4 linked regions of the Homo sapiens genome follow. The protein of the gene in region 1 purifies or fractionates together with the protein of each later gene. This does not show direct contact. Each region holds a gene or a part of one and is shown in the gene's direction. Other genes may lie near its edges.

Region 1 (5,157 bases):
CGTGTTCTGAATATTTAGCTTCCACTTATAAGTGAGAACATGCAGTATTTGGTTTTCTGTTCCTGCATTAGTTTGCTAAGAATAGTGGCTTCCAGCTCCATCCATGTTCCTACAAAGGACATGATCTCATTCTTTTTTATGGCTGCATAGTATTTCATGGTGTATATGTGCCACATTTAGTTTATCTAGTCTACCATTGATGGGCATTTGGGTTGATTCTATGACTTTGCTTTTGTGAACAGTACTGCAATGAATGTACGCATGCATATGTCTTTATGATAGAACAGTTTACATTTCTTTGTGTTTATACCCCGTAATGGGATTGCTGGGTCAAATGTTAGATCTGTTTTTAGGTCTTTGAGGAATCACCACACTGTTTTCCACAGTGGTTGAACTAATTTACATTCCCACCAACAGTGTATAAGCATTCCTTTTTCTCCACAACCTTGTCAGCATCTGTTATTTTTTGACTTTTTAATAGGAGCCATTTTGACTGGTGTGAAATGGTACCTTCCTTGTGGTTTTGATTTGCATTTCTCTAATGATCAGTGATGTTAAGCTTTTTTTTTCATATGCTTGTTGGCAGCATGTATGTCTTCTTTTTAGAAGTGTCTTGTCCTTTGCCTACTTTTTAATGGGGCTGGTTGTTTTTTCTTGTAGATTATTTTAAGTTCCTTATAGATGCTGGATATTAGACCTTTGTCAGAAGCATAGTTTGCAAAAATTTTCTCCCATTCTGTAGGTTATCTGTTTACTTTGTTGATAGTTTCTTTTGCGTGCAGTAGCTCTTTAGTTTAATTAGATCCCATTTGTTAATTTTTGCTTTTGTTGTGATTGCTTTTGATGTCTTTGTCGTGAAACCTTAGCCCACTCCTATGTCAAGAATGATGTTGCCATTACCAGCCACTACAAAAACACACTTAAGTACACAGACCAGTGACACTGTAAAGCAAGCACACAGTCAAGTCTGCATAATCACCAGCTAACATCATGCTGACAAGATCAAATCCACATGTATCAATACTAACCTCGAAAGTAAATGGGCTAACTGCCCCAATTAAAAGGCACAGAGTGTCAGGATGAATAAAGAACCCAGACCCTATGGTATGCTGTCTTCAAGACACCCATCTCACATGCAAGATCGAAAGAAATGGATGGAGAAAAACTACCAAGCCAATGTAAAACAGAAAAAAGCAAGGGTTGCAATCCTGATTTCAGACAAAACAGACTTTAAGCCAACAAAGATCAAAAAAAAAAAAAAAGAAGGAAAAGAAGGTAATAACATAATGGTAAAGGGTTCAATTTAACAATACCTAACTAAATATATATCCACTCAACACAGGAGCACCCAGATTCATAAAGCAAGTTCTTAGAGACTTTCAAAGAGACTGACACTCCCACATAATAATAGTGGGAGACTTCAACATCCCACTGACAGTTTTAGACAGATCATCAAGGCAGAAAATTAACAAACATATTCAGGACCTAAACTCAGCAGGCTCAAATGAACCTGTAGACTTCTACAGACCTCTTCACCCAAAAACAAAAGAGTATACATTCTTCTCATTGCCACGTGACACATACTCTAAAATCAACCATACGGTCAAACAAAGAACACTTGTCAGCAAATGCAAAAGAACTGAAATCACAATAACCACTCTCTCAGACCACAGCACAATTTTATTATTTTCTGAAAAAAAAATTTATTATAATTGAATGTGTAAACACTTATTACAATTTTTAAATAATTTTAGAAATGATAAAAATGCTCATGGGAACATGTATTCTTAGTTTGGAAAACAATAGACTTCTTAACTATATTAAATTCAGAAAGCATGTAGGAATGTGTAACTGTGGTACAGAAAATAATTTTCCTTATTTCGTCTAGCCTGTATACTCGAGGATGCTTAGTCTTGGCATAAGAGTGGGCAAGTTAAGAGGTGACATTGACAATATTTTTCTCAATAGTTTGATGTTAAGAGCAAATATTACTAATTGACCAAAATGTTCTTTCCTAATGGCAGGGGCTTCCCCTGGAGCAGTGTTTCTAAACACCAGTTGCTCATTAGAATCACTGGAAAGCTTTTAGAGTTCCCAGTACTCAAGCTGCACCCCAGAAGAATTAAATTAACCTTGGAGGGTGGGCACCAAGGCATCAGTATTTTCTAAAACTTGCCACGTGATTCCATGTGTGGCCAAGGTTGAGAATGTCTGTTAAGAGACATAGCTGAGCTCACTCTTCTCTGTCACTTATATTACATTCGAGATCTTCAGGTCTACCTACAGTTCTTGATATGTTTAGGTAACATTAAAAAATTTAGAAATCCTTTGAGGAAAAGAACCAAACACAAAACCCAAAACAACCCCCAAATCCAGGAAGTGATCTAATACTCAGAGATAGGACTCAGTATGTTGCTCCAGGCTGGCCTTAGGCTCACAGCTGCGCCAATGTTGTTCTCCTCTTTGACATAAATGATCCCACAGAACATCAACATCAGACAAAGTCACTTCAAACCTTAGCAAAATGAGACACAAAGGTTGTTGTGCAACCTATACAACACCAAACACCCTCAGTCTCAGCTAAAATGAGTGACTGCTGCTTCTGTGCCCATCACAGCTGTATCTTAGCTCTAGTCTACCCTCCTTATAGTAAAGTTTTATTGAATACTCAATCACGGAATTGTCCTCACTTTCTGACAGCACCTTACCTAAAGTGAACCCTCACTTCCATAGACCTTTTCCAAAATTACCCAGACAAAGCGCAGATCCTCTAATAGGTTATTTCTAACACTCTTTTGCTGATATACCCCATGGTTTCCCATGGTGAGTCATCTCCTTCACCGCAACAAATAAATAACAAACAAAACTTGTTAACTACAGATGTATTTCTGGTAACATTTGGCTGAAGGGCATTGACAGCCTTTCTCACAAAACCTCACCAAGAATATTGAAAAGAAGCTGGCTTTGAGACTAAAAATTGAGCAATGTTGTCTGAATTGAGCGGATCACAGTGGTTGCTAACCTTGGCTGGGTTAAATTAAAATTACCTGAAGAGCCCAGGCTGCAAACCAGACTGAATTAAATCAGAATCTCTGGAGATAGGACGTAGGCACCAAGTATCATTATAGCTCCTTAGGTAATTCCAAAAAATAATAAATAAAGGGAGAGAAATTACACAGACTAGAAAATTATACAGATTTGAAAACTGAGGCCAGTGGTGTTAAAGTAAGCTACCCTGAGTCTTTCAACCTACAAGCAGAAGCCCATCAGACCTACGAATGCAAGTAGTCTGACCGCAGATTCTGAAATTTGTTTTAGAGACAAGGTATCACTCTGTCACCCCGGTTGGAATGCAGTGTCACGATCATAGTTCACTGCAGCCTTGAATGCCTGGGCTCAAAACAATGTCCCACCACCCCCTCAGCCTCCTGAGTAGCTAGGACCATAGGCGAGCACCACACTGAGGTAAGTTTTTTATTTTTTGTAGCAATGGAGGCTTGCTATGTTGCCCAGCCTGGTCTTGAATTCCTGGCCTCAAGGGATCCTCCCATCTTGGCCTCCCAAAATGTTGGGATTATAGGCATGGGCCAGTATGCCAGCCAGAGTATGCACTTTTACCTTGGTGGTAATATGTTACAAGCTTTGTGAATGTTATCTATAAGGCTTTTGATGCTGGTGATACAATAATAAGAGGAAAACAGCACAAAATTTAATCGTAAAAGGATGAGCCCAACAATGCAAATAAAACCTGTAAGAGCCACTAGATGATATGATTTTGGGTCATTTCTCTTCTGCTTTTGAAATACTTGTTTACATATTTATTTCAAGAAGTGTTCACAATAAACATGTATTTATTTTCCCCTTCAAAATATTGTTTTATAATAAAAAGGAAGACATAAGAAAACATATATATATCATATGTATATATGATGTGTGTGTGTGCGTGTGTGTATGAAACTGAAAAAAAAATTTGCCAGGTTATGAGAGGAATTGTAATTTCTTTTCCTTTTCCTTTTTTTTTTTTTTTTTTTTTTGAGACGGAGTCTTGCTCTGTGGCCCAAGCTGGAGTGCAGTGGCACGATCTCGGCTCACTGCAAGCTCCGCCTCCCCGGTTCACGCCATTTTCCTGCCTCAGCCTCCCGAGTAGCTAGGACTACAGGCGCCCGCCACCATGCCCGGCTAATTTTTTGTATTTTTAGTAGAGACCGGGTTTCACCATACCAGGATGGTCTCAATCTCCTGACCTCGTGACCCACCCGCCTCGGCCTCCCAAAGTATTGGGATTACAGGCGTGAGCCACCGTGCCCGGCCAGGAATTATAATTTCTTAGTAAGGCAGCCATATGAGATGCTGATAGAAGGCACTAAAAAATGTCAAGCTACCATTATGAGAGATAGAATCATAATATCCTGTGTGAAATGTAAGACCTTTGATGTAAAACTTTCCTTTCCATGGGAAGCAGGCGAGATTGCCTGACTGTGGTTAACTGTCTATTGTTTCAAACTCTTATCAAGGCCCCTCTTGTTCCTCTTCCAAGAAGTAACAAAGAAATAGAACATGTAACAATTTCCCTGATTTAAGAAAGTTTTTTGGTTTTAATATTTTTCTTACATTCTTGGTTGCTATATACACATATAAATTTAGAGAACACCTGGTCTGTCAGTGTCCCAAATGAGATCAAAGAAGGCTGTGATTGGATATCATCATGATTTATTAATTTCTGTCTGGATAAAACAACAAAAGAGATCCAAATATTCTTCCCTGCTTTTCCTCCTACTTTGGAATAGCTGTCAGAACATGCTTGCAGAGGCTTAGATAATCTGAGGACAAAACCCTTTGTTGTCCTTCCACAGAGCTAAGTAACCTGCACCAGCTTGTGGTTCCAATGACCACATTGGTGAGTGTGAATAGTTAGATGGAGAATCCTTCTTTCAGACAGTTGGATGGATTCAGAGTGGGTAACAAGTGCGTAGTGCTTGGCATTGTAAGTAAACATAAGGTAACACTGGTAGTCTCTATCACTTGGGGTTCTGACTTTTTTATTACATTAACTTGAAAGCATCATAGAAGGGAGAGGCATCCCTAAATTTGGCAGACCACGAGAAATCACTAGAAATAATTAAAGGAGAATAGGGCTTTTTTTCTTTTTTAGAAAAT
Region 2 (4,328 bases), on another chromosome or scaffold:
AGGCTGTCCACCCGCCTGGGCCTCCTAAAGTGCTTGACAAAAATATCTTAAAATCATGGAGGACTTTTTCTTTTGAGATACTTTAGGTATCTCTCTGAGATGATCTCTTCTCATTTTGCATGATGGAGGATGTGGTAATGAAAAGGGAAAGACCGGGTGCAGTGACTGGCTGGGCGCAGTGGCTCACACCTGTAATCCCAGCACTTTGGGCGGCTTGAGACGGGTGGATCACTTGAGGTCAGGAGTTGGAGACCAGCCTGACCAACATGGTGAAACCCCTTCTCTACTAAAAATAGAAAAATTAGCTGGGCGTGGTGGCGGGCGCCTGTAATTCCAGCTACTTGGGAGGCTGAGGCAGGAGAATCGCTTGAACCTGGGAGGCAGAGGTTGCAGTGAGCCGAGATCGGCCACTGCACTCCAGCCTGGGTGAAAGAGCCAGACTCTGTCTCAAAAAAAAAAAAAAAAAAAAAAAGAAAAGGAATGAAAGGAGACAGTCTTCATAACAGTTGTGGCAAAACAAGCTGCTATGTGTCATACATGGAAAAATAAAGAAAATAGACAAAATTTAATTATTTTCCAAAATTTTCTCTAACAAAAATGGGAGATTTTAAAGTAATTCCATTTTTACTACTCCCTATCAAATGTCAGGAATTTTTATAAGGTGATATCTATATCTCTAGTTCACTTTTAGAGGTGATTGATGTCTTTATAACTGGTTAGAGGTTATCTTACTGGTATTTAACCAAACTCCTGTCTTGAGATACAATGCGTGGGGAATATTCAAGATTGAGTAATTTAAAGATATTCTTATTTTCAGAGGTTAACTCCTGTCTTTTTGTTTACAGTAACATGAAGACACAACAGAGTTCCATACTAATGTTATTTATTATTTCTTTAACTTGCAGAACTGCAAGGTGTGGAATATTTCTGGCTTCTAGTCCAATGCCAAGTGTGTGACCTGTGGTGAGTTACTTAATTTTTCTGGACCTCAGTTTTTCATCTTGTAAATGGAGTCCTTTACATGCATTATCCTGTTTAATACTCTCATCAACTCAAGCTAGGGTAGCTACCTAGAGAGGGACCTAAACAAATCTCAGTGCCTTCCTGCTGCTCTAAGATAGTGAAGAGAACAAGGTGAGCCCAAGAAGTAGGAGACCTGGTTTCTGGTCTCTGCTTCAAGCACTTAATTCTTTTTTTTTTTTTTTTTTTTTTTTTTTGAGAGGGAGTCTGGCTGTCGCCCACGCTGGAGTGCAGTGGCGGGATCTCGGCTCACTGCAGGCTCCGCCCCCCGGGGTTCATGCCATTCTCCTGCCTCAGCCTCCCGAGTAGCTGGGACTACAGGTGCCCACCACCTCGCCCAGCTAATTTTTTGTATTTTTAGTAGAGACGGGGTTTCACTGTGTTAGCCAGGATGGTCTTGATCTCCTGACCTCGTGATCCGCCTGCCTCGGCCTTCCAAAGTGTTAGGATTACAGGCGTGAGCCACCGCGCCTGGCCAAGCACTTAATTCTTAGTGGACCAAAGTTACTTGGCCTCTGAAGGCCTTAGCTGCCATTAAAATGAATTTAGGAATGTAAGTCTTTTGCTTAGAGGTTAGATCAAATGGACTTTTAATAAGGTGGTAAATTTGATAATATAACTCTGTCCCCTTTAGACATTTACTCCATTTAGAAATAGTACTTGTTGGTGGCAGGGACATGTGTTTCTGTGTAAGTGAACTGGTTTTATTATTACTCAGGGTGGGGGATCTTTAACATTATCTGGAAAATAAAAGTGGTTACAAGTTGAGGTGGTGGAAATTCAGGTTTTCTAAGAATGGGGGTCAGTTCACTAGGCATTTATCAAGCCTCTGCTGTGCTCTTGTACTCTGCTGAGAATGGAAGGCACAAAGATGAGTAAAACCTGGTTCCTTCATGGAGAAACTCCCAGTCTGCACGTTGGCAGGGTGTTAGTGGAGGAGGTAGGAGAAGCAGCCATACTGCCTCAACAGCGCTTTGCATTTTTGTTTGTTTTGTGAAGTATTTGTAAGCATAAAATAATGCATGTCATATATGTTAAGAAACAACAATAAAAGGACAGAAGCAGAATATCAGCCATGCTATTGAAATGTCTCCCTTTGTGCTCCTTCCAGATTGTTCCCTCTATTCCTACTGCCTCCACAATCATTACCCGCTATTTTGTGTTTGTGATTTGCTTTTCTTCATAGCTTTGTTACCACTGATGATTCTTAATCTCCAAATAATATATTTGTTATAGTTGTGTTTGAATTTTGTAAAAATGCATCATACTCTGAATTCTTCTGTGACTCAACACTTTTTAAGATTTAGTTACAATGATGCTTATAGATGGAGTTTATTTTTTACTGCTGTACAGTGTTCTGTTTTATGCATGTGCCACACTATCTGTTTTCTTATTGATGGATATTTGTTTTTTGTTTTTTTCCTATTTCAAATAATGCTGGAATGAACATTCTTATACGTGTATCTTGGTGCATATGTTCATGAGTTTCTCACTGCATTGGACTGTAAGATAGCCACTAGTCACCTAGGGCTACTTACATTAAAATTTATTAAAATAAAATATTAACTATTTCAGTTCTTCACTTGTATTAGTCACATTTCAAGTACTCAATAGCCACATATACCTACTGGCTACCATAGTGGACAGTGCAAATATATAGCATTTCCATTATCACAGAAAGTTCCAAGTTTCCAGATTTTACTCATCTTTGTATCTCCATTTATTAGTATAGTACAGGAGCACCATAGATGCTTAATAAGTTGGATAATGCTGGTCATATGCCCAGCAGTGAAATTACTGTGTGGGGAGGTATCCACATCTTCATCTTCACTGGAGAATGCCAACTTGTTTTGCCAAGTGCTTATGCCAGTTTATATTCCCACCAGCTGTCTATGAGGGCCCTGGCTGTTGTATATCCTTGACTTGGTATTGTTAGACTTTTCAATTCTTGCCAGTCTCGTTGGTGTCTTTTGAAGGCAGTCCACAGCTTAAGCAGACTGCAGAGAAGTCATTCTTCCAGCTTCACAAAGCCTAGCACCAGGTAGTGAAGAAGGCACCACCTTAGAGGGGATGATCCGGGGAAGGGTAGGAGTGTTTCCTGTGTTGGCTGAGGGGGTCAGAGGACCAAAGTCCAGCTAAAGTGGAGGAGAGAGAAAACAGCAAGGAGTGGATTCACGTTGTTGAAAACTTCTCTTTGCCTTCTATGACATTTCTGTCTTTGGTAGGAACATTTTTGATAATAAGGCAAGTCATTAAAATGAATCTTCTTTGTTACCAGAGTTAATTCTGCATTTTAGTTTTGGCCCTACATTTATTTAAAGCCTGAATTTGGGGAGTATCTGCAAAGCACTGAAGGTTTTGGACATTGTCTTTTCCTGCTGTTGAAAGAGACCCTCTTCATATATACAACATTCAGGTAATTGCTTCTAAGCTTACTTGAAAGGAAGCTTATCCCTATTTTAAATGAGATTAGAAGTCCTGCCTGAGTGTTATTTTGGTCTCAGTGCCTTTCAAACAAAGGGATAAGAATGAGTTGTTAGGCTGCTGTGTGCATAGTCGCATAGTCTTATCATAAGACAAAGTTTAGGAACTGAAGGTTGTCGTTTAGCATTCAACTCACTAGAGCTAGTAAAAAGAGATTTATCTCCCCACCGCCCTCCACCCATGCCCTCTCCAGAATTTAAAAGCAAATGCACACAAAAAAACTTCCTCCTATCAACCTCAAATCCCTTTCATGAAAGTTATGGCAGATGGTTGTGATGCTACTTTGCTGTAGTGCAGATTTGGCAGAATGCAGCTAGTGCTAATTGCAGTGAGGAAGACAGGAGTCACAATCCCATCCTCTTTTGGGAATTGTCCTGTCTGCTGAAATCTCAAAGAAGAGCACTAGGAGTAGGAGTAACATTGACTAAAGCAGCTGACATTTACTGGTCACTTACTACTACATGCCAGGCACCATGCTAAGCCCTTTTTACATGCATTTTCTCATTAATCCTCACAACACTCTAGCACCTTCTCCTGATTTTGGAGCTTAAGGTGGGTAAACATCTTTCCTCAGGTTTCACAGCTAACGTGGTTAATGTAGGGCTTGGATTTTAGTTCCTTTGACCCTTAAGCTCTGCTAAGATTATCTTGAATCTCTTACCAAGAATAGATGAGAAGGACTCAGGAAAGTGCCAGGTTGACATTGAGAGAAAGTTGTACTTCAAAAGTAGTCCTTCCTTTTGTTTTGTCATGGGGAAATAAGAGGCAGGAAATGCAGCCAAGCGGGGCTGGTGTAGGTGCTGAGGGAAGTGTAGTCCTATATT
Region 3 (5,003 bases), on another chromosome or scaffold:
TGATACTATACGATAACTTAGCAAGTGGTAGTTTCTTAAAGGTTAATTGCAGTGAGGAATCTGAAACCATATGAATGAACATTTTGGACTGTTACACTAAAGTTTACTGGTGTATTTTATGGTTCAAATTAATCTTTTACCCACATAAGATTTCATAACATTATGCATCGGTCAACTGGAAAATCCAGTTATGTAGCTCTGTACAGTGGAAAATCCAGTTACGTAGCTCTGTACAGTTGTCCAATTGTACAATGGAAAACTCCACTATATACTTGAGAGAGTAGAAAATAAAACTAATGTCTTAGCATTATTATGAAAATAGTTTTGGACTTTGCATCCCCTTAATGGGTCAGGGTGTAGTCCATCAACAGCTTCTGCAAACATAAAGGACCTTTTGACTGTCGTTTTCCTGAAAAATAACTCGAACGAACCTAAAGGTAAATGTAAAATGTACTTCAAGACTGTGAAAATGGGCTGGGCCCAGAGGCTCACGCCTGTAATCCCAACACTTTGGGAGGCCAAGGCGGGCGGATCACGAGGTCAGGAGTTCGAGACCAGCCTGACCAACATGGTGAAACCTCATCTCTACTAAAAATACAAAAAATAGCCAGGGTGGTGTCAGGTGCCTGTAGTCCCAGCTACTTGGGAGGCTGAGGCAGGAGAATCGCTTGAACCGGGGAGGCAGAGGTATCAGTGAGCCGAGATCGCGCCACTGCACTCCAGCTGGGGAGAGCGAGACTCCGTCTCAAAACAAACGAACAAAACAAGACTGTGAAAATGAACTTTACGAATAAAGCCTAAAGAAGCAAATAAAAGTCATACTTTTGCCTTCTATAATCAGTGTTAACATTTTGGCCCACTGGAACCTCTCTTTGAGGGTAGGGACTGTGTTGATCTACGAATCACAGATTTAGCACACTGGCTGGCACTTATGAGCACTGAAAATGCTTTTTTTTTTTTAGTACTCCATAGCCTATCCCTTTCATTTAGCTGGGTAGTGTGGTCAATTTTCCCCATAACATGCGTTCTCACATAATTGCATGTATTTCTGGGGTACAGTGTGATGGTTCCATACATATACACATTGTGCAACCATCTAATCAGGGTAATTAGCACATCCATCACCAAAACACTTGTCATTTCTTTGTGGTGAGAATATTCAAAATCCTCTCTTCTAGCTATTTTGAAGTTAACATTATCGTTGAGTATAGTCATCCAAACGTGCAAGAGAATACCAAAACTTATTCCTTCTAACTATAACTTTGTGTCTGTTGACCAACCTCTCCCCATCTTCCTCCCCACTAACTCTCCTCTGTACAAGAATAACCACTCTTTTACTCCCTACTTTCACGAGATCAACTTAAAAAAAAACTTTTTAAAACGACTGCATGATATGTTTTCAGGCTCACACATTTAAAAACCGTGACTTTGGCAAAGAGTAACTTCATTCTGCTGGGGAAAAAAATTTAAATGGCCTGAGTCCGGAAGCTCGCCAGGGCAGAAGCGCAGGGTCGCTCCGCCGGGCTCGCCGGGCCGGGGACCCCCCAGCCACCCGCCACCACGGCGGGGAGGGCAGGGTGCTGACTCCAGGGACCACGACAGTCGGCCCCGGTGGTGGGGATTCCGCGCGGGACCCACGCGGGAACAAAGAGGCGGCTGGACGGCCCAGCTCTCCGCACCCGGAAGGACCTGTTCCACCTCTCCGGCTCCCGTACCCCTCTATCCGCATCTGAGTGACCAGATCCCACTGCAGTCAACAGCCCGCGGGGTAGCCAGCTTCGAGGGACCGCCCGGAAAGACACAACGCGCGTGGAAGGCGCCGGGCGTCCAGTCTCGGGAGAGATTAGAAGTGGCGCTCCTGCCCAGCGCCGGCAATCCAGGGGAATCCGCGGCCATCGCGGATCCACCAGGGGTGAGGCGGCACTGAGCACAAGTGTGAGGCTCTCGGGAGCTACGCCTCCGCTTCCCCAGTGCCACCCGTTTTTACCTCAGGCGGTTCTGACCGCCATCGTTTCAACCTGGAGAGGTGAGCCCTCCCCTACCGACGCACTTCCCTTCCCCGGCAGGAAGGAGGGCGCTGACCCAGCGGGCGCACGCCCCTGACTGCGCATGCGCCGGGTGCGCCGTTCGTCAGCGGCGAGTGGCCTCGCGGCGCCGGATTCGTCGCTCCGCCAAGAGTGCGCCTGCGCGGTCGCTGGGGCTCGCACTTCAGCTTCCCCTCCCCCGGCGCCCTCTGGGGCTCCGAGCCCGGCGGGACCATGTTCACCAGCACCGGCTCCAGTGGGCTCTGTGAGTACCGGCCTCCGCCATCCTGGCTGCCCCCTACACGCCACCCTAGGCACCTCTTTGAGGAGGCTGGGGCAGCGGGGACCCTCGGGTTTGCCGGAGGTGGTGGGGCCGACCCTCCAGACCCGCGTCCGAACCCTGCTAGTTCCCGGTCTTGGGGGTCAGCGGAAACCGCCCCCATTTCGGCCTGGAGGGGCGAATGGGGACAAAGCCCCGCCGCCCGCCCCGACCCCACCTGGTATCCCCAGGTGCTCTGCCCAGGAGTCTCTTGGGGCCGCTGCAAGTGGGCAGGTGCCCTGGTGTTCTCGTGGGCCGGCCCCAGGCCCTTTGCGGAGCGTGTGCCGCGCTGAAGGAAGGGGCCGTCCCCCTTACCATGCCCCATTCTTTTAGGCTTGGGGGACCGAACTAACTCCCCCCGCCCCCACTTGCAAAGTTCAGCCTCCGCTTTAGAAGCTGACCTCTCAGTTTCACTTGGATGTGTTTCTTCTTCAGTCTCCAAGAAGAGTTTTTAGACAAACACACACTGATGAGAGTGCTTTCAAGTGGAGGGAAGTTAGGAAGTCGTGGCGAGGGAGCGCAGCTGTGCTGCTGGATGTTGCTGTTTTCCTGGCGTGTTAGCGGTGGTCAGCAGGTAGGGGGCGGAGTATTTTTACAGCCAGTTAAACGGCTTTTCTCACTGAGTGTGTGGAATTGACTTTCGGTAAGGTAGACTGCGTGTTAACAGTTAGGCACGGGTACAGCAACGGAGAACAGCTCTAATTTTGCAATTGCTTGTCACTGTTCATACTCCATGTGAAGTTAATGCTGCTGGAGGACAGAAACATCTGACATTTCCAAATATTAAAGATCTGTTGGCCGGGCGCGGTGGCTCACGCCTGTAATCCCAGCACTTTGGGAGGCCGAGGTGGGCGGATCACGAGGTCAGGAGATCGAGACCATCCTGGCTAACACGGTGAAACCCCGTCTCTCTACTAAAAACACAAAAAATTAGCTGGGCGTGGTGGCGGGTGCCTGTATTCCCAGCTACTCGGGAGGCTGAGGCAGGAGAATGGCGTGAACCCGGGAGGCGGAGCTTGCAGCGAGCCGAGATTGCGCCACTGCACTTTGGCCTGGGCGACAAAGCGAGACTCCATCTCAAAAAAAAAAAAAAAAAAAAAAGATCTGTTGGGAATGTCATGAATCTTCTGAGAATGTGTGTCTCGTCTTATAGTCTGACAGTGAGTTAGTATCAGCGCCACAGGCATAATTTTAAATCTTCCTCACTTCTCAACTTCTCAGGTTTTGAAGTGGTTTCAATATTTATGATTTCCTTTGTTTCATAATTAATTTGATTTATGGCATCTTTCATGGATTGGTCCCGGAGTATGTTACAACTACTAAGTAATCTTCCCCAAACTACCCTTTAGATAAAGAGCATTAGGACTGTAGCTGAAGCTGACAGTTCAAGAAGGCAATGTGGTTTTCCTGGGATCACACAGTGAGCCAGGAACTACTGGTTATGAAATTAATGGTGGAATTCTTCAATTTCAATTGTTCTTTAGCATTTTGATCTATCCTTGCTGGCCAAAGTACATATAAAAAAATAAAGGGCAAGAGAAATCTTATTGGTTGCTGTACTGTATTAGCCATGAGATTATATTGGCCAAGTGTATTCAAATTTGATACAGGGCAACTGTGGGGAAGATAATATTTTGTTATCTATGGCACATGGTGGTGAGTGTTGAATTCTAGGAACCAAACTGTTGCCCAGGGAGAGGCGTAGGTCTGGAGCCCCTCTGCAGCTGTCTTGGCCTGTTTCTAAAATTAAGTGCTTCTGCAGTGTAAGAGTTGTTGGGATGGCCGTTCCTCAGAAGGCTGTGTCTTACATGCTCATTTTACAAACATTTTGGGCATCTCCTCTGGGCGATGAACTGGGCTAGGTGCTGGGAATGCAGCAACGAACAGGTCCTGGTCTCAGTGCTTACAGTGCTGACGGAGCTTAGGCACAGTTTTCCAGGACTGGTCATTAGAAAAGGCTGTGTGTCAGCTTTAACATTTTTCTCTGGAGAAGCTACCCACTGAGGGAGAAGTGATTTCCTTTGTTTTATTTTATTTATTTATTTATTTATTTATTTATTTATTGAGATGGAGTCTCACTGTTGCCCAGGCTGGAGTGCAGTGGTGGATCTCCGCTCACTGCAACCTCCGCCTCCCGAGTTCAAGCGATTCTCCCGCCTCAGCCTCCCAAGTAGCTGGGATTACAGGTGCCCACCATCACACCTGGCTATTTTTGTATTTTTAGTAGAGACGGGGTTTTGCCATGTTGACCAGGCTGGTCTTGAGCTCCTGACCTCAAGTGGTCCTCCCGCCTCGGCCTCCAAAAGTGCTGGGATTACAGGCGTGAGCCACTGCCTATGATTTCCTTTAGATAAGTTGAGGGACCCTTTAGCAAATCAAAATTCTGATCCTGAGCAAGAATCTGAAAGAAGGACGACACGTGTACCTAGCCCTACCCCCATGGGTGGTGAATAACAGTCCCTTTCCAGGGATAAATCCCTGCCATTTTCTACCACCTGCATGTTTCCCACGTTTTGTGGTTAGTAGATAATAGTATTTTAGTGTTAAACTTGCCTTTCTCTCTCATCCATTCAATAAGTGTCTGTTGGGTACCCATATCAGCCACACACTGTTGATATACAGAGGATAAAGTAATAAGCAGGATCAAGGAGACCAGCATC
Region 4 (4,328 bases), on another chromosome or scaffold:
GAACTTGGGGTGGGAGGTGCCAGGAGCAGCCCTGCCCTGGGCCTGAGCACTCCGAGTAAACTCTGTGCGCACTGACCAAGGTGGCAGAGCTCAGGGACTTCTGTTTCAAGCCCCTTGGGAGGGGAGCGTGGCAATCCCAGGGCCAGTTCAGGCCTCCAAGGCAGGGGCTCCTGCCCACAGAGAAGAACAGGCAATCTCCCTGTTAAGGCTCAAGGCAGGGACACAGTAGCGACCTGTCTGAGGTAGCAGCAGAGGTCTTGGGGCGCAAGCTTGTCTTGGAGTGTCCGGTGACAGATGGGACCCCAGTCTCCATTACCAGAGTGGGTCGGGGGGAGGAGCCCGGTCTCCATCGCCAGAGGGTGGGTCGGGGGCAGGAGTTCCTGCAGGGCTTTGGCTCATGTATTCAGAGACGCGCTGGACCGGGCTCAGGTGCTGTGGCCAGAATCCAGCTTGCTGTCTCCCTGTCTGTCCTCAGTCCGCTTCTCTGCCACACACCTCATCCCTGTGTCCTGCAGCCCATGCCCAGCAGGAAGACGGCCTCTCCCAGCATCCATAGAATGGATTCTAGAAGGACCCTGGTTGGCATGCTGGGTCCTTGTGACCACCCTTATCCAGCCTATCCCCTGGCCTGGTGAGGGGAGGGTTATCTGCATGCTGCAACAGACCCTTCAGAGCCCACAGGTGGCAACAGGACATGAGGCAGTCCCTGGGTCCCACATTCAGCTCTCAGCCAGCCACTTGGAATTGGGGCCCCTGCCCTTGGGGTGCGTGCGCCTGATTTAGGAAAAGGCAGCGTGGTTGGTGATCCCTGGGATCGAGAGAACAGGCAGTTGGGGTCTGCAATTAGTGGAGAAAGTGGGACTAGATGGCTGGAAAAGCAGGCCCTTCTGTGGGAAGAAGGGCATGGAACGAGGAGTGGACAATATGCCCAGTGCCGACTCTTCTCACCACCTGCTGTGAGCCTCAAGTTTCTTCCTGACCTCGTGATCTGATCTGCCTACCTCAGCCTCCCAAAGTGCTGGGATTACAGGCATGAGCCACTGCGCCCAGCCCAAGCCTCAGTTTCTTTATCTGCAAAAAGGGAACGTGCCCAGCAGCCCTCAGACAGCAGTCCGAGGAATCCGTGAGCACCTGTGTTTCCATGAAAGCACATTTGTAAAGAGCAAAGGCTGGATTGGGATTTCGGCAGAGCATTTGTGGGGGCCTCTGCACGTCATCCACAGGCCTGACGTGTCGCCCGCTTCTCTCTGTCTCCAGACTCCGGCTATCTGTTCAGCGGTAGCCGCCCACCATCTCAGGTGTCTCGATCTGGGGAGTTTCCTGTTTCAGGTGAGGAAGACAGAGAGCTAAGTGGGGGACGGGGCAACATGAAGCCCGGGCGTTCCAGAGCATGGTGGTTTGTGTGAGCTTTGGGGTCAGACAGACCCCAAGTGTGTGTTCACATCTCAGCCCTGGGCAAGTGACCTACACACCTGTGCCTCAGTTTCCTCTTGCGTGAAATGGGAATGACAGTCTCTAGGATCAGATGGTACCATGCTGCTCTGCCGTCCTCAGTGGCAGTCACGGCTGGAACTGGTGCACCAGGTGCCAGCTGGCAGCAAGGCCTCGGGTGAGCTGGCCTTGTACCTCCAGGGTTTGCTGCTATCTGGCCTTGCTCTCAGCTGATGGTACCCAGGGCTTTGGATGGAAATCAAGGGCAGAAGGCCATGGCTGAGGCTCCGGGATCTCTCCTCTCCCTCAGGTGCCTGGTAGAGGGCACCTCTCCTCCTTCAGCTTTGCAGCAGGACTTCCCCCTGTCCCCAGTCTCTGCACCTTTCCTGTCTTCCCGGGTTAATAGAAGAATGCCCCCAGAAATGAAATAGCGCATTGTAGCGTTGCAGTGACAGGAGCCCACGTTCACATCATCTTCCTCCCTCCCTCCAGATTACTTCTCTCTTCTGTCGGGGAGCTGCCCCTCCTCCCCACTCCCTTCCCCAGCGCCTTCCGTGGCCGGCTCGGTGGCCTCCAGCTCCGGCTCTCTGCGCCACCGCAGGCCCCTCATCAGCCCTGCCCGGCTCAACCTGAAGGGACAGAAGCTGCTGCTGTTCCCGTCACCCCCTGGAGAGGCCCCCACCACGCCCAGCAGCTCCGATGAGCACTCGCCTCACAACGGCAGCCTCTTCACCATGGAGCCGCCCCATGTTCCCCGGAAGCCGCCCCTGCAGGACGTGAAGCACGCCCTGGGTACGGCCTTCTGACCACCCCAAGGGGCCGTGGGAGGGCCTCTGCTGCCAAGAGGCCTGGCTGTGCGGCGGTGGGGGGGCTCATCCTTGCTCTGACTCCGGTGTGCGCCTTCCCACCCTGGAGCTCTAGGCACCCCATTCCGGCTCTGGTGACTTGAACCCTCTGGGACATTGACCTCTAATGGCTGATTTCAGTTTCTCCTTTTGCAGTTGACCTTCAGGGTCCTCTGTTTCTTGGAACTGATCGAAAACACATCACGCATTGCCAGGTGCGTGTGGCCACAGATAGTTTCACTCAAATGGTGCTGTACTGCAAAGCATTTAAAATGTTTATAGTTAGCCCCCAGCCTTTAAAACCTACAACTTTCAACTTTCACATGAATTTGTAGATTTCCTTTTTTTTTTTTTTTCGAGATGCAGTCTCACTCTGTCGCCCAGGCTGGAGTGCAGTGGCGTGATCTTGGCTCACTGCAACCTCCTCCTCCAGGGTTCAAGAGATTGTCCTGCTTCAGCCTCCCGAGTAGCTGGGACTACAGGTGCGCGCCACCATGCCTGGCTAATTTTTATATTTTTAGTAGAGACGGGATATCACCATGTTTCCCAGGCTGGTCTTGAACTCCTGATCTCAAGTGACCCACCCATCTTGGCTTCCCAAAGTGCTGGGATCACAGGCGTGGGCCACTGCGCCCGGCCTCGAATGTTTAGATTTCCCACGTCTCTTTCAATGTCAGAGATCTGGTCACCTTGGGCCTGAATACTGGCAGACAAGAGGTGGCAGGACAGTTGAGCAAGGACCTGGCCCCCCACTGTCCAGGGTGGATGAGTGGCTTGGGACAGCCTGGCTCACCACTTCTGACAACTGTCCTTAGAGTGGAAGTACAGCTGCCCCGCGTCTGTCCCTGGAGGGAGCCATGAGCGCCACTGAGAAACACACCCTTCTCTCTGCAGACCTGAGATCCAAGCTGGAAAGAGGCAGTGCCTGCAGCAACCGCTCCATCAAGAAAGAGGACGACTCTTCCCAGTCATCTACCTGTGTGGTGGACACCACCACCAGGGGCTGCTCGGAGGAGGCCGCCACCTGGAGAGGTCTGTACCCTGAGGTGCGGGAGGGGAGGGGGTGGGCACACATCCGAAGCCACCATCTCCCCCAGGGGGGTCCAGAGCACTGACAGAAAGAATCTTCCAGGACATTGCAGTCCCTGAGTGGCCGACAAGTAACCCACCCGGCGCCTCTGAATCCAGGGTCAGGGACTCAGTAGACGGCACTCCCCCTCTCGGGATTTGGGCCCCGATCTGCACTATTCCAGTAGCTTCTGGCCCCAGGCAGCTATTTAAATTAACTGAATTAAAATTAAATAAAGTTTGAAATGTAGTTCTTGAGCTGCACTAGCCACATTTCAAGTGCTCAGTAGGCACCTGTGGCCCGTGGCTGGCATTTAGGACACATACCGAAGGCTGCCATCCTGGCCGGAAGTGCCCAGAGAGCCTGGGTGCACCGGGACCACGTCACGCTGGGGCTGCAGCCTGCACCGGGTGCCGAGCTGCCTGGCTCAGATCCCAGGTTCTCTGCTCACTAACCCTGGGGCTCAGGGGCAAGAGACCAGATCTGTGGTACACATCATCACTCCCTGGGTGGGGAGGAGGGGGTGTGTGTTGAGGGAGATGGACAGATCAGCAAGCAGGGCTTTTCCTGGGCAGGTCATTTTGCACTGACTCTCAAAGCCAGTGCTGCCCCAGGCTGGAGGGTGGCCCAGCAGCTTGGAGGCCTTGGTGAGAACGCAGGCTGCGGCATGCAGCAGGTGGACCTGGGTTGGCTGCTTATTCCCTTGGAGGCCTGGATGGGGTGCTCCTGTTCCCAGCCCCCATGACCTCATCTGTAAAGTGGCCATTGTGGTCACTGCCTCATCACCCAGGCCCCAGCTCATGACAGCCCAGCCCATGGCCTTCCTGGCGGCTCAGGGTTAGGAAAAGCTGTGCCTTCAGGGAGGCAGGGAGTGGGGGTCTTTCCTGCTAGGGAAGCCTTTGGCCAAGAGAAGAATTGGGGGTGAGCCTCACCAGTCTCAGAGAGTACCCTGGGCAGAGCCTTGAGCTCCCCACAAACTGCAT

Evidence for each region.
Region 2: the proteins of SLC9C1 (region 1) and HERC3 purify together in Homo sapiens (affinity purification with mass spectrometry; one large-scale study listed by BioGRID and IntAct). This does not show direct contact.
Region 3: the proteins of SLC9C1 (region 1) and UBAC2 purify together in Homo sapiens (affinity purification with mass spectrometry; one large-scale study listed by BioGRID and IntAct). This does not show direct contact.
Region 4: the proteins of SLC9C1 (region 1) and TMEM201 purify together in Homo sapiens (affinity purification with mass spectrometry; one large-scale study listed by BioGRID and IntAct). This does not show direct contact.

What each region holds. Positions count from the first base shown.
Region 1 is NC_000003.12:112,286,920-112,292,076, reverse strand, and holds part of SLC9C1 (solute carrier family 9 member C1), read left to right. Parts: intron 1-5,157. UniProt on the Homo sapiens protein: Sperm-specific solute carrier involved in intracellular pH regulation of spermatozoa. Required for sperm motility and fertility.
Region 2 is NC_000004.12:88,594,652-88,598,979, forward strand, and holds part of HERC3 (probable E3 ubiquitin-protein ligase HERC3), read left to right. Parts: intron 1-905; 5' UTR 906-963; intron 964-3,298; exon of another isoform or gene 3,299-3,436; intron 3,437-4,328. UniProt on the Homo sapiens protein: E3 ubiquitin-protein ligase which accepts ubiquitin from an E2 ubiquitin-conjugating enzyme in the form of a thioester and then directly transfers the ubiquitin to targeted substrates.
Region 3 is NC_000013.11:99,198,651-99,203,653, forward strand, and holds the start of UBAC2 (ubiquitin-associated domain-containing protein 2 isoform 1 precursor), read left to right. Parts: upstream 1-2,203; 5' UTR 2,204-2,258; coding exon 2,259-2,289; exon of another isoform or gene 2,290-2,761; coding exon of another isoform or gene 2,762-2,917; intron 2,918-5,003. UniProt on the Homo sapiens protein: Restricts trafficking of FAF2 from the endoplasmic reticulum to lipid droplets.
Region 4 is NC_000001.11:9,608,583-9,612,910, forward strand, and holds part of TMEM201 (transmembrane protein 201), read left to right. Parts: intron 1-1,257; coding exon 1,258-1,329; intron 1,330-1,923; coding exon 1,924-2,223; intron 2,224-2,432; coding exon of another isoform or gene 2,433-2,491; intron 2,492-2,636; coding exon of another isoform or gene 2,637-2,758; intron 2,759-3,170; coding exon 3,171-3,308; intron 3,309-4,328. UniProt on the Homo sapiens protein: Critical regulator of angiogenesis and endothelial cell (EC) migration. Promotes the migration of endothelial cells, which is essential for angiogenesis.